Homo sapiens: one gene and its partner. The protein of the gene in region 1 interacts with the protein of each later gene in a pairwise test. Each region holds a gene or a part of one and is shown on either strand. Other genes may lie near its edges.

Evidence for each region. Proteins that work in one complex are often made in the same cells at the same time.
Region 2: the proteins of FAM13C (region 1) and CCDC172 interact in binary tests that used the Homo sapiens proteins (3 or more experiments, as listed by UniProt).

Annotation. Positions count from the first base shown.
Region 1 is NC_000010.11:59,359,541-59,366,767, forward strand, and holds the start of FAM13C (protein FAM13C), read right to left. Parts: upstream 3,010-7,227; 5' UTR 2,921-3,009; coding exon 2,859-2,920; intron 2,844-2,858; exon of another isoform or gene 2,359-2,843; intron 1,571-2,358; exon of another isoform or gene 1,486-1,570; intron 1-1,485.
Region 2 is NC_000010.11:116,327,438-116,334,473, reverse strand, and holds part of CCDC172 (coiled-coil domain-containing protein 172), read right to left. Parts: intron 1-7,036.

The DNA of each region.
Region 1 (7,227 bases):
AATGTGGCCCCTTGCATTAGCACTACCTGAAGTACCTGGTCAAAACAGAAGTCTCCAGCCCCACTACATCAACTCTCTGAGGGCAGAGCCCAGGAATGTGGATTTTTAAAACAGACTGCCTACCTATAGAACTACTATGTTTCTAAACATTTAACACTGACCTAAAGGTTTCCAAACCCCAAAACAGCACTGTCCTGACACCAATACAATCACCCATTCTGGGTTCCCACTTTGAGATAAAACCTGGGAGACTGCAATTTTCACAAGCTCCAGTCCCCTTCCCCAGTTGATATTGATGATCAGTTAGCTTTGAGAACCACTGGTTTGAATGATAACTAATCAGAATTATTGCAGGCTTCATTTAAAATAGCAAGTTAGCTGGGGCAATGTCACGATTGACCATGGAAAAATATTAGATGAAAAGGTGCCACAGATAGGGAAGAAAAGGCCAAGGCCATTGTGATGAAAACATTGGGGTGGAAAAAGAAATTGAATTTGTCTAGAGCTGCATAGATAGTGCCAGGGCTGGGAAAAACCAAGAAGAAAATAAAATCTGTCCTTGAGTCCCTCCCAATTTCCCTTTCCCCTTGACTCTTCTAGGACTCCCAGCTGGCCAAGCATAACCATAACCATAACAGGTTAGAAAATAGGTTAGGTAAAATAATTCATATTAAAGTATTCATGACAATTTGAATCCACTTCCCAAGGGCACAAACTTTTTAATTTCCAATTTAATAAGGGTCACTACCAGAGGCCTTCATCCAAAGAAATCATCTCTAGGTGAAATTTCAGGCATCGAAGAAAATAAGTGGGTGTGAGTAGAAGGATGTAGGAATGGGGTGGGGACAGGAGGCAGAGGAGCTCTTCTTGTATCCAGAACATAGAGGGGAGAAAAGTCCCTCCTCCGTGTAGGCCAAGACCACACCCAAACATTTCCTGAGAACCTGCTATGTCTGTGTCTCAGGATATAGCACCTTGGTCCTGAGGGCTATGGGGTCATGCCCAGAGAAGCACGGGATATGGGTCATATTACTGAGGTGAGGGGAAAATGTTATTGTGGCAATGACTAGTTTTAAACAGTCCTAGTCAATGATGTGTTATACCTATGAAGCTTTTGGTATGTTCTCAATAGGCTCCTTAGATTTTTATATTAGCCAAATGGCATACCAATTATCTCTCAGTGCCTTTTAAAATAAATCACTGTCACTCCTCTGAAAGTAAAAACATGATCTTATGCAATCAGAACTCCTTGGGGAGTGTCCAAAGACAAGGCACCAGGCTCTCCCCAGCATTTAACCACGAAACCTCTACAGAAAAAAAAAAAAAAAAAAAAAAAAAAGTCCACGTGAAATCTGGAGCTAAGTGTCTCCATTTTGAACCTGCCGTGCCTGTGACTGACCGAGGATTTGGCCACACCAGGCTCCTGAGAATCGGGGCCAGAAAGCACTTAGTACTTTAAGCACAGCAAAGGGAGGAGAGCAGTACCTGTGCACCTGGAGCAGGAAGTCCAGGCCTCATCTTCGGCCTGCAGATGCACACTTTGGCACACCTCTCTCCCCTTCTCTCAGGCCTTTAGAAAAGCAACATTGCAGCACAGGTTACCAAGCAATCTTATAAACAGAATGTGGGTCCAAATGAGTATTTTACATTGCTTCTTCTAAAGTCAATCCTGTTTTTTTTTTTAAGTGACTCCACTTAAGTCTGCTCAAAACTGGACACTAAAGGAGCAGCACAGCAAAAGAGAGAAACAAAAGAATGTGGAAAACAAGAGGGCCTAGGAAGCACTGTAAACCTTATCCCTCCCTCACCAAGTCATTGTGATAGTGGCAGGACTTGGAAGCCAAAAGCAAAACATTTATTTGCTTTTTAGGGAATTTTAGCAAACAGCTCCCCAGTTAGTTAAGCCTTCTACATCAAACTCATAACATTTTTTAAATGTAGTTGAGGATACAACTTTACACATGCCTTTTTCCTGAAAAGATGTTTAGAGTGGCTTCTACAAAGGTCCCAGAAGTAAACATCATGAATTAGCCTAGAGAAAGAATGCTAGATGAAGTACATATTCATATATATATATGTATATATAAATTACATACAGTATTAGCAAAATACACTACCTGTTAATTTTTAACAAATATAGTATAATATTAGGAAAACATTAAGGAAGGGATGTCAAAAATTAAAACTATAGCATATAAATATCTTTAAAAAAATACTGTGCTTGCTGGTACGCTCCTTCATTCACACTCCTTCATTCCATGTTTGAAGGGTGTTAGTTGCCCTAATCAACAGCTTTAACCATAGGACTAGGTGACTCATTCGTCCCATAGTCACATCTCTGTAGTCAGAAGACAAACATGACAAAGGGCATGCACAAAAAGTTTACTCTGATATGCCTTAAAAATCTGTAGACAAGAGAGGGCCAAGATAAGTTTAGCCTGTTTACCACATGCTGGAATTCAGCTCATTTCACATCTATCTTCTATTGCTGTAAATGTATATAGTGTGCACTCCATGAAAACTGACACCAATGTTGGCAAAATACAACAAAGCTTCCTAACACATCAAATGGATTTTTAAAAATCTGAGCTCCAAGAACACATATCTTGGAGCACTGAGCTCCTGCAAGCAATCAGCTGGTTTTAATTTCTCTCCCGCAGCTGCTAAAATGCTGGTTTCAACCTGTAAAGATTTCTGGGCCCCACCAGTCAGCACGTCTCACGGTCTTCACAGCCCCAGATTCCGGGAGACAATGCATCTAAAACGAACAGCGGCTGGGAACGGTGGAGGATACCTTCACGATAGTTGCTTCCAGAGAAAGGCATGCAAGTCTAATTTTAATGGTAAGAATCACTTACTCTGTTACAGTGGTGCTGCTGAAGGAATTATCCTGAAGGCTGAAACAGAAACAAGAAAACATCAGCCAAGTCTGGCCGGGGAGCCGTCTCCCTGATTGCTCTCCGGGAGTTAGAGCACATACACAAACATGGCATTGCAAGGCAAGTCTCCGGGCTCGCCCGGCACGCTCGCTCTACCTTGGGCTGCTGTCTGCACATGCTCGTAACGACACCCCCAGCAGGGGCCCAGCGGCACGGGCGAACCACAAAGCCCGGCAGCCCGCGAGGCTGCGGGGACAGAGCTGGGCGGGGCGCGGCGGCGGGGCTGGGACCCCGGGATCCAGCGAGGAGCACCTGGAGAGTTACCACACGACCCCGACCTCGCCAGCCCAGGCGCCGCGTTTAATCTTGGGCTCTTTGTGCCAGCCACCCCCCGAGGCTGGCAATGAGAATGCCCCAGTGTTTCTGCCGAAGTGCTGAAATACCCGGGAGACTTGCTTTCTTCCACATGTCTCCTACCAATTTTACAGAGCTCACCCCAACCCCCCACACTCCCACCCCACCCCCAGGGATGGAGGCTCGCAGAGATTCATCCATCGTTCAGAAAAAGTCAGGAGAGAACAAGAAGGGGGAGGGGGATATTGCTGCTGTTTGGTGTTTTATTTTGTGTGTGTGTTTTTTGTTGCCTAGGAAAAAGAATAGGCTCTAAAGCAGGGCTGGCTGCATCACACCTGATCTGTCTAGAGCGCTCTTATTTCAGTCCCAGAGAGGAAGCGCCCAGCCCCGGACTACAGAGCTGTGAATGAACCCACGCAGGGCGAGTGGAGAATTTATTCCAGGGGTTAGCTGGTGATTAGGACACCGTGCAAGGGGTGGGGCTTGCTATGCCTAGAGCAGCCCGCTTGAGCTCAGCTCCCTAGCTAGCACCTTTACAAAGGATGGAGAGACGGAATCCGCAAACGCTATCCCTTTGAATAAAGGCAGCCTTGTTAGGGAAAGGAAAGACTGTCAGTCCCCCCACTGGCTTCTTTCCCTTGGGGATATTTGTTCTGCCCTCTTTGTATTGTTCATTTCTCCTGCCATGTTGACCTGGATATGGGATGTAGCATCTATTAAAGATTCTTATTTGAATTTGAATTATTTTATTTGAATTTTGAAATAAGATTCCCATCCCCCTTTTTAATCTTTCTACTCCCAGAAGCAGCTAGGATAGTGGTTTTTAGTCCAAACCTATGTAAGTTAATGAGTTAACATAACAACAAAAAACTCATAATTTTTCTAATTGGGCAATTAAAAACTTTACCAAAACTTGGAAATAATGGGGAAGAGCATGACCTTTCAATGTCAAACTGAGACATCGGTTAACAAGTCCACCCAGGGGCCAGTTAATTCTCCAGTTGTGTTTGGCTTTGCTCTTCACTATTGATTAGATTCCAGCCACAGTGAAGTTCTGTGGTCACTTGCACATTTTATTCAGCCTGTTCAGAGAAAAAGATAATCGCAGCGTTTATGATTTTATTGCAATATAGGAAGATAACCAATTTTGCATCTAACCAAATAATCATTTTGCATCTAACCAAACTTTCTTTCTAAATACCTGTAAATCCACAGATCCTCAAAATGCTTTTGGAACCAGCTTCATCATCTTACAGTTTTCCCCATTAATAAGTGAATAGATCTCTGCTGCCTGCCTATGTTTGTATGAGAGTTGTATTTTAACTTTTTAAATTTATACCTTGAAAAATAAAAATTGAGTTTTCAAAGAAAAACAGGTTTCATTAAGGTTCTTTGCAATTTTGCTTTCCTCTCTCCAAATATTTTTAAAATCAGCTAAATAAAAACCTAATATGGTCTTAGACTGAATTCTATGGACTAAAATAAGTTCAGGAATATTAATCCTTTGTATGTATAACTATACAGTACATATTTGTTCCGAAGCCACCTACTATTTCATTTGAGCTAGGTTCAGGAGTAAGAGACATCGCTGCTTCACTGTATTCATTATTTAGCCATTTCAAAGTGAGATCTGTTCTTTGTTTATTCAGACTGATGAAGGTAAGTCTATATTCAGCCTTCTGACTGACTTATGGTTTCATAGATTACATGGTTGTTAATTTCCCATATGGTTGTTAATTTCCAGAAACCCCTTGTACTCATTGACTATGGTGTTTATTCCAAGTGTTCCAGTGTGGAGAAAGATCACACTTTTCTCCTATAAATACTCCCAGTGATCCACTTGTAATGGAAATGTTCAATGCTTTTAATTTGAAATAGGACTTGGACATTTAATTAAGAACAACCTTAATTAAATGGTTGATTTTCTTATATACTGCCAAATACTGTTTTTTTTTCATTCTATGAAATGAATTGGGCCCTTTGAAAATAAAATGAAATAACAAATGTACCCAATAAATGCAAGTATTCAATAATGTCCAAGGAAAAGAAATAAAAATTCTCAGCAACTCGTGAATAGGAAGGACCAAAATTAGGTTTTAGGCAGTACCCACATACAATGAAAACAACTGGTTGATACAGTTGATTATGGATAAAAACCAAAACATCCCTGAAAAAACATTATTTGGCAGTATATAACAAAATCAACCATTTTAATTTTTACTTCTCAATTAATTCTTATGACATTTGTTTTCATCTTAAATCAGGTTTAGAAATTGTCTTTGTAAGTGGCTTTTTAATTGGCTTTTATGATGTTTTGTACTGTTCAACTTGGAATAGGACAATACTGATGAATATCGTACAACATATGATTATTTTGGAGACCCTCAGCTTTACTAAAGAACAATTCCAGGAGGGTTTGAAAAGGGGAGCAGAAAAATTAATATTGAGTTTATGAAGAAGTAAGTTCTAGGCCAGTATTTCCCAAGTGGCAGTGAAATTCTAGTCTCCAGAAAATCCAGGAAAATGTTTTAAAAGTTACATGGTCAAAAATAAGTTTTGGAAAAGATGCATATTATAAATTCACAATGCACATTAGGTAGCAAAGAGAAGTTTTTCATCTGTTTTTAACAGTGTTCCTCAAATTCATTGAAGACCAAAATAATTTTTTGTTAAATATATCATCAATTAGCATCATGTATAACTAGGAATTTTGAGAAAATAACTCCTGAATATATCAGGAAAAAAATGCAAAGGGAATTAAGTGGTATATTTATTAAACGAATGAATGAACAAATGATTCTACATGCTTATCACTATCCCATAGTTATGAATAAGACAGACACAGTCCCTGACATCATAACATTTTTAATATAAATATATTGCATATTTATATATGTAAAATACATAATGTATATTATATGTACAATTCTATTGTATACAATATAAGTAAAATAAAGGAAAAATGAAGATGCTAGATTTGAATATGGTTAATTCACTTAACATGTTAAAAGTGCTCAATTTTAAATGCTCATTTTTCTATCAGTGCTCTAAAACCAATATCTGAATATCAGATCTAATACCAATAGTTTAGTTTAATTGTAAAATTGTTAATTCTAATGTATTGACTTGACTATATGCAAAATATAAAGCAACAGTGTAGAGGTCAAGAAAGAAATTTCCAGATTTGCCAAGACTCAAGACCCACCGCTTACTAATAGTTTAAACATGAACAACCTCTTTTGCCTCAATTTTCTCATCTGTAAAATAAAGATAATAATGACCTATTTTATGGGTTCTTATGAAGATTAAATTAAATGACATGCCTGACAAATTTAAAAAATAGTAAATAAATGCTGCTAATTATCCTTATTTTCATTAGTATTATTATAATAAATAAGAATATATAAACAAAGCTTGAGACAAGATGAACAATGCCACTGTGCTTGAAGAGGAGGCTTACAGATGATATTTTCTTTCTACTTCCTATGATGGCGCAGTGTTTACACAGCTTTTTTTTTTTTTAAGAACAATAAAATTTAAAACTTTACTAAATGCGGATGGGCTGCTCCGGATGAAATGGGTTTCATCCAGATTGGCTTTGTGCTCAGTTTACAACTCTTCAATTTAAAATACTTGCGCATCCCTGGAGGAACAGACAATTCTGAGAAATCACTTTCTGCAAGATGCTGGGGCAAGAAGCCAGAATCTTTACAATGCCAGGAAATCAACAGAGGCCTGCTCTATTGGCCTGGACAGAGTGACTTGTAGCTTCCTGTCAGTACCCTTGGGAATGACCAGGCTTCCTTGTGAAAGAGAGGACTCTTGCCTGAAGAGATAATTTTTTTTCCACAAAAAAAGAAAAAAAAAAAAACTTCTTCCCATCCCTGTCCCCTAATCTATTTCTTCACCAGCTCCAATGAGGACAGCATATCAAGAGTCCTTATTATCTGAGTGGTCAGTAACTGAGCTCCTGAAGATTCAAAGGTGCCCAGGG
Region 2 (7,036 bases), about 57 Mb from region 1:
TAAACAATTTTGAAAGAAAACCTATGAAAATGTTAACCGTGTGGTGGAATTATAGGTGATTTTCACTCTGCTTTTTGCCAATTTCTATTTTTGGAATAATTTGCAATAAATAAACACTACTTTTATAAAGAGTTAAAACAATCAAACTATCTTAATTTTGAAAAGTAATCTACTGCATGTTCACCAAATATAATGGTAGAAGGCCTCAGAATTTCCCAGGAATAAAACCCACTTTTCCAGTAGGAACATAAGCGAGAAATCTTAGTAAAGACGGGGAGGAGCGGGAGCTCAGAACGAAAAGAACATTTTAGAGTAATAATCTGATCCATTTGCTCACTGTGGTGGTCCCATCTCTCCCTTTCCTTCCTCTATCTCTCTTGGGAGGAATTTTTAACCAGAAGAAATTAGACTACATTTGAAACTGTGGAACTCATCTGAACAAAGGAAACTGAGGTATACAGCCTTTTAACTTATCTTGAAATATGAATTCAGGCAATAACAATCCATGAGACCATATATGCAACAAAGCCTACACGAGAAATTCTTCCTATCAGCATCAGATCACAGGTACAGCTGTAAGTCGCCAGTTGCCTTTGATCCTTCCCACTCACCTTTTCAGAACTCACCTCCTGTTCCAAAGTCCACAGTCAACTCTTTTCAAAATAACCCCTAAACTGCAAAATTATTCTTCCTCTTTTCCTCAAATAAAACTCCTATTCCTCCAAAGCTGCTCATCTCAGCGAGACAGTAATCTGATTAGGGAAAGACCAGCAAAGCACAAATACTGACCGGTCAAGAACATCTTGTACTGATACGTTTTAATCTGAAAGACTCTTCCTGGGGAGCAACTTTAAAGTAAGATAACTTCTGTGTTATTTGACAACTCAGGTGGCAGTACCTTACCTTACCTATCACCACACATCTTAGGATACAAAACAAAGGGATGCTGAGGTAGTGTTTATTCATGCACTGCTTTTAATGGAAGAACTATAAAATGTCACACATTCTTTAAAACATACATCTTCCTCAACAAATAAGAAAACTTGGCACATGTGCAAGAAATAATCATATCTCAGGCAATAAAGCTACACTACAAGAACACTAGAAATTGGGCTGGGGGTACTCACATCAGCTTGTCAATCAGCTTTAGCTCTAAGAAAGTAGTTGATTCTTCCAGTATTCAAGAAAATGAGAACAGGACAAAAAACAATTTATATATTGTATTTATAGGCAAATTGCAGGTCTGAACAAATCTCACAGAATAACAACATGAACCCTATGAAAAATACTGTTAACAGAAGAGATAAAGAGAATTATCCAAAAGATTACAGTGAAGAGCACAGGATGAAAAAAAAATTGTAATCAATTACTTACTGTTCTTAAAAGGATGCAAACAAAGACATGTCCACTAGAAAACAAGAGCAAGGAAGGACATAGCAGAGAAAGATAAAAACAGAACAAGCTGAAATTTTTAAAAATTAGAGTGTTAAAAAAGAGAAGACAACACATGATTTAAATTTGCAGAGAGCATTAAATAACTAAAACTAATACTGCAAAAAATAGAATTAGGGATGTAAAGGATACAAAGTTTTCCCAGACTTCTGAGGATTCAATTCAGAGAAAAGAGAATAAAGCTCTTCTAAATTATAAGAAATGGGTGTATTGAAAACAAACTCTATGAAATAATAGCTGAGGTTAAAATGGAAGGCTCACCCTTGTTCCAGAAAAAAAAAACCATATCTGTACCAAATTTGGAATTATAGATTGTTTAAAATCATAAAAGCAATCAGGGAAGAAAACAAAACCTAACAGGTTACCTTAAAATAGGATTTTTAAAAACCAGGTTGACTTCAATACTTCTCTTCTGCATTAATAAATTTCAGAATATAATAGTGCTAGATCCACAAAATGTTGTAAAAAAAGGTTTGACTCAATAATTCTGTACAGACAAGTTTCCATGCAAGTGTGAAGATAACAGAAATTTCAGATATTAATAGCTTAGAAGATCTGTCATTCACAACTTCCTCCTACAAAATTACAATTACAGACTCATCAAAAAACAAATAAAAAAATAAGAACTCAAGAATGACAACGTGAGGCATTGAAGAGTTTTATAGTGCAGAATTATGGTTAATATGGCAGTAAAAGCAAAAGTAGAAAGGACTTACTTTCTACTCCAAACAAAGAGAAATGCTAGATAAAATCTAACTACATTTAAAATATTTATCATTTACATAGCTAAGCCAAAAGGAGGAGGGAAATCTTCATGCAAGAAACAAATAGACAGCTCAGTGTAAGGATGGTGATAAAATTCAAGCCCACAGGAGCATCTTTCAGAAAGGATACAGGCATTAGGGATTAGGCTTTAAATGCCCACATAAGAACAAAAATCACAGGCAAAGAGAGCCAGGGTTGGACTCATTGTACTGCCAGGAATTGAGAAATATCTATGCCAGTTACGAAAGATGGATAAAAAACTCCACCTGTTGCCCTAGAGATGCAGTGTATAAGTGAGCTATATCCCATTGAGCCATGAGTGGAAAACGAGTCATATCCTGAGAATTTGAACCCTGAGATTCTCTTATCCATACAGTGCAGAAATCTTGAGCTCAGAATTTAACATAAAAACTGGTCCTTAACAGGGGAAACCTGTGAGGCCCTGGCAGCAGGGGTGAAACTGCTTCTTAGGGACATCTTTTCTATCAAAGGAATATGTCGAACAGCCAGGAGAGATAAGTTCTTCTAAAGATAAGTTCAATAAAATAAAATCAATAATAAATCTTAAAGTTAATAAGAAAATCTACCACCATGTAAGAAAGGCATCAAATCAAACAAGTAGAATTCAAGGCAGAGGAAAATAGAAAACAGGATTCTATGAGAAAAATTTTAACTTATTCACTCACTAAATGTCTGTTTAATACCTACTATTATTCAGGCACTGTTCTAGATGCTGGGAATAACAGCAATGAACAAAATAGATTAATTTCTATCCCTTGTGGAGCTTACATTCCACTGGAGGGAGACAAATAATAAACAGATCAATATAAAATATGCCAAGAGGTGGTACATATCACACAGCATAGAGACAGGGAGAGATGGTAATGCTATTTTATATAGGGAGGTCAGGGAGGGGCCTCTACAGAGAGGGGGCCTCAAATTTTTGGGTCTTTTGACCTCTTCATAGTCTAAAAAATTATTGAGAATTTCTTTTTGTTTGATTGTTTTCATGAATTATATCTAGAAATATTTTCTGTATCAAAATTAAAACTGAAAAATTTTTAAACATTAATTTAATAACAATAATCCTATTGCATTTTAAATACCACATTTGTATTGAAAAATGACTTTCCAAAACAAAAACAAATTAGAAAAAGGAGTTGCATATAGATTTTTTACAAATCTCATTAACATCTGGCTTAATGGAAGACAGCTGAGACCAGGTTTGGTGGTTCACGCCTGTAATTTCAGAACTTTGAGAGACCAAAGTGGGAGGATCACCTGAGGCCAGGAGTTCAAAACTAGCCTGGGCAAAATAGCAAGACCCTGTCTCTAGAAAACAATATATTTTTTAAATTAGCCAGGTAGGGTGGCAGAGGCCTGTAGTCCCAGCTACTCAGGAAGCTGAAGCAGAAGGATCACTTGAGGCCAGGAGTTTGAGGTTGCAGTGAACTGTTGTTGTGCCACTGAGCTCCAATCTGGGTAACAGAGTGAGACTCTGTCTCTTAAAAATAAATAAATAAAAACAAAAAATTAAAAAAGAAGATAGCTGGACTCTCATATCTGCTTCTACTCAATCTTTTGTAATACGTTTTTCAGTTGGAGAATACGGAGTGCACAGATATGTAGTTGGAAATGATTGTGCATATTCTTCTTTGATACTATATCAAAATTCACCATGTGGTAGCTCCTTAAAGGTTAGTTGCAATGTGGAATCTGAAGCCGTTTCAATGAACTTTTCATTCTATGTTATAATAAAATCCATTGGTCTACATTGCACTTTGAGTCTACCTTTTATCTATGCACAGTTTTGTAACTTTATGCATTACTTACTGCTTCCCTGAATTATGCAGATCCTCCAAATGTTGATATATTTCATAATATGCTTTGAAAAGTAACATTCTGAAACATCTTGAAACATACTGCTTCAAAAGTAACATTCATATTCATTAATATCACTAACGAACTCACCAGAAAAATCTTTAAGTACCAGGAAGCTGCCAAGCTGCCAAGATAGATAGGAATCCTCCAAAATTCTAATTTTTGTTTGAAAGCTTGCATATTATCATTGGCAAAATAATAAGAAGAATGTCAGATGTTTGCCTTGACATTTTAGGCTTACTTCATTTATTTTTCAGAAAATTTTGCCAAACACCCAAATCTAAATAACTACAACTTGACTGTCAATTATCTAAGTAAAAATGGCGTTTCAGAAAAAGAATAGCTAGCTCATACTGCATCTCAAACAACTGCACACATGCTCTCTCTTGAGACAATCGTGGCACTTCGGAATATAAAAGTACTTTAGATGTACCACCCATGTGATCGTACACAATATTGAAAATGAATATACTCAATGATCAGTTCCAATAAAATTAATATTTTTGACACTTCAATCAAAACATTAAGTAAAACTAGCGGTTTTTGTTTTCTTACTGAGAGTGCATGGCAGTGAAGAATACGAGATGACTACTAGTACAGTTTGGTGCCACCACCTCGATTTGTGTTAAGGTGCTAAGAGTTTTACTCACTGCTGCTTTTGCACTGTCAATGTGTGCATTAACATAGAGAAGATGGCAAATGGTACCTTTGTATAGTATTATCATAAAAATAGCTTGACCTTACAAACTCCCTGAAAGTGTCTTGGGGACCCCTTTGAACTCAGAGATCACACTTTAAGAATAATGCTCTAAGGTGACAACTGAGCAGAGACTTAGGCTAACCAACCATCAAGATTTGCATGGGGCTGTCCTAGTGTTAGCACTAAAAGTCCCACATGATTCTACTGGGAGAGATCTAAATGAAGTGAGCGTGCATGACAGAATAACAGCTAATGGAATCAGCATTTCAAGCAGAGGAAACAGCAAGTGCAAAGGCCCTGGGGTCAAAGAATGATTGGCATATCCAAGAAAAAACAGCCCATTACAAAGGTTCACACCCCCATAAACCTGACTGTCCTCAGGAAGGTGAGCTACTGGACAATGTCTAATACAATACTCAAAGGACACTCAGTGACCTTTTTTGCCTATTTCCAAGTTTTGGATAATTACTCATGACAAACATGATAAGGCTTTCTTTATAGAATTTCATAGAGAAAATGGAAACAAATTTTTTCTTTAAATGAGAACTTCAAAAATTTTGAGTTTACAGTTAGGTTTATATAGTTGAAATTGCTTGATGTCAATCCTGTAATTCAGGAAGGAAGGTGTTATATAATTTATTTGCCAAGTATTCATAGTGTGATTTAGCAGTTGCTCAATGAATGTTTGTTGAATGAATAATTGCCAACTATAAAATTAAATATTGGTAGGATCTAAATTTTTTTGATTAAGTGTAAAGAAAGAAAAAAGCACTCCAATTACAAAACTCCATTTCAATACTATAAATGATAATAATTTGTGATTTTGTTCTTTCTCCAATTAGGTAATACAGTACTAAAGGATATGACTTTGCCTGCTGTTCTGGAGGTTTCCTAACTTTTACCAATTAAAATAAAAGAACACATACATATTGAGGTAAAGAAGTAAATGGGGCCACCTTAAGTTACTTTTTAATTTCAATACAATTTTCCTTTAAAAATTCATGAAATATTCTTTTATTATTGTTATGGTGTTTACACAAGTTAAAATTGGAAACAGAAAAAATAAACAAAATATTCACAAAATAGCCTCAGATTTTCCTCCATTTACTCCCTCTTAAGGGAATATGGCATTATATTGAGTTTTATGTAATATGTTTATAAAAATTAAATGTCAAAATTTTAATTATATGCCATTTTTAAAAATAGAAGAAGCTCTTTTAGATGTTTAAAAGAAACTACCAATGTTCTGTCAGTCCTTAATTTTGGTTTGCCCTGTCATCAATACTATACAACTTTTCCTTAACTATCAGAAGTTTTGGATGTATTGGTAAGCATGAATGCAAATCCAGGGCATGTTCTCATTTTTCTGTTTTCATATTACCAAACCTAACCAGGCATAGTGTAGCTGTCCAATTCATAAAGTACTCATACTATATAACCTGAGACTTTTGCAACCATATATTTTAAAAGACTCATTGAGCCCTGCAAGGCAAATGCTATCATTCAAGTTCTAATTACATGCTATCCGGGTTTTACATAAAAGAAAAAAAATGAATACTGTACTTCCCAAATACATTTATTGACCAGAAACAACATCCAAAATAAATGCCCCCCAAATTTTCTGAATGTATGACTGTACAATAGCTCAAGCACTGCTCTATTCAAATTATGTTCTATTAATAGTTTCTCCTTGTGCTGCTACTGTTTGATAAATGGGTCAATAAATGCCAAGTCAAATATTCAAGTAAATATATTTTCATTGTTATTGGCAGACATATAATTAACTCAGAATAAAAGAAACAAGAAATCAATTTAGGATTAGTTCTTCAGTTCTTCCCATTAGTCATATGCATTATAATTGTGATTCCACTTTTAAAATCTTTATGCACATATACATACCATCTTGACTATAATACAAATCAAACTATTTCAGTTATAAATTAGTATTGTATGAACTGTGACCCTCATATGTTAATTTTATTAGTAAGATACAAATGTATTATTACCCACATATATGAGCTGGTTAAAAAGCAATGCATGCTTATGAACCTATATTAATTAGTAATTTCAACAAATGTTTCTAAACAATGGTAGGCCTTTTCTGTCTTCTTTCTAGTAAAAACAACTGAATCAACATTTTTTAATGTATGTGTATATATCAACAAATTACATTTCCATTTGCAGACAAAACAAAACTTTGCTAACAAAGAAAATATTACAGAGTAACATTAAAAAATA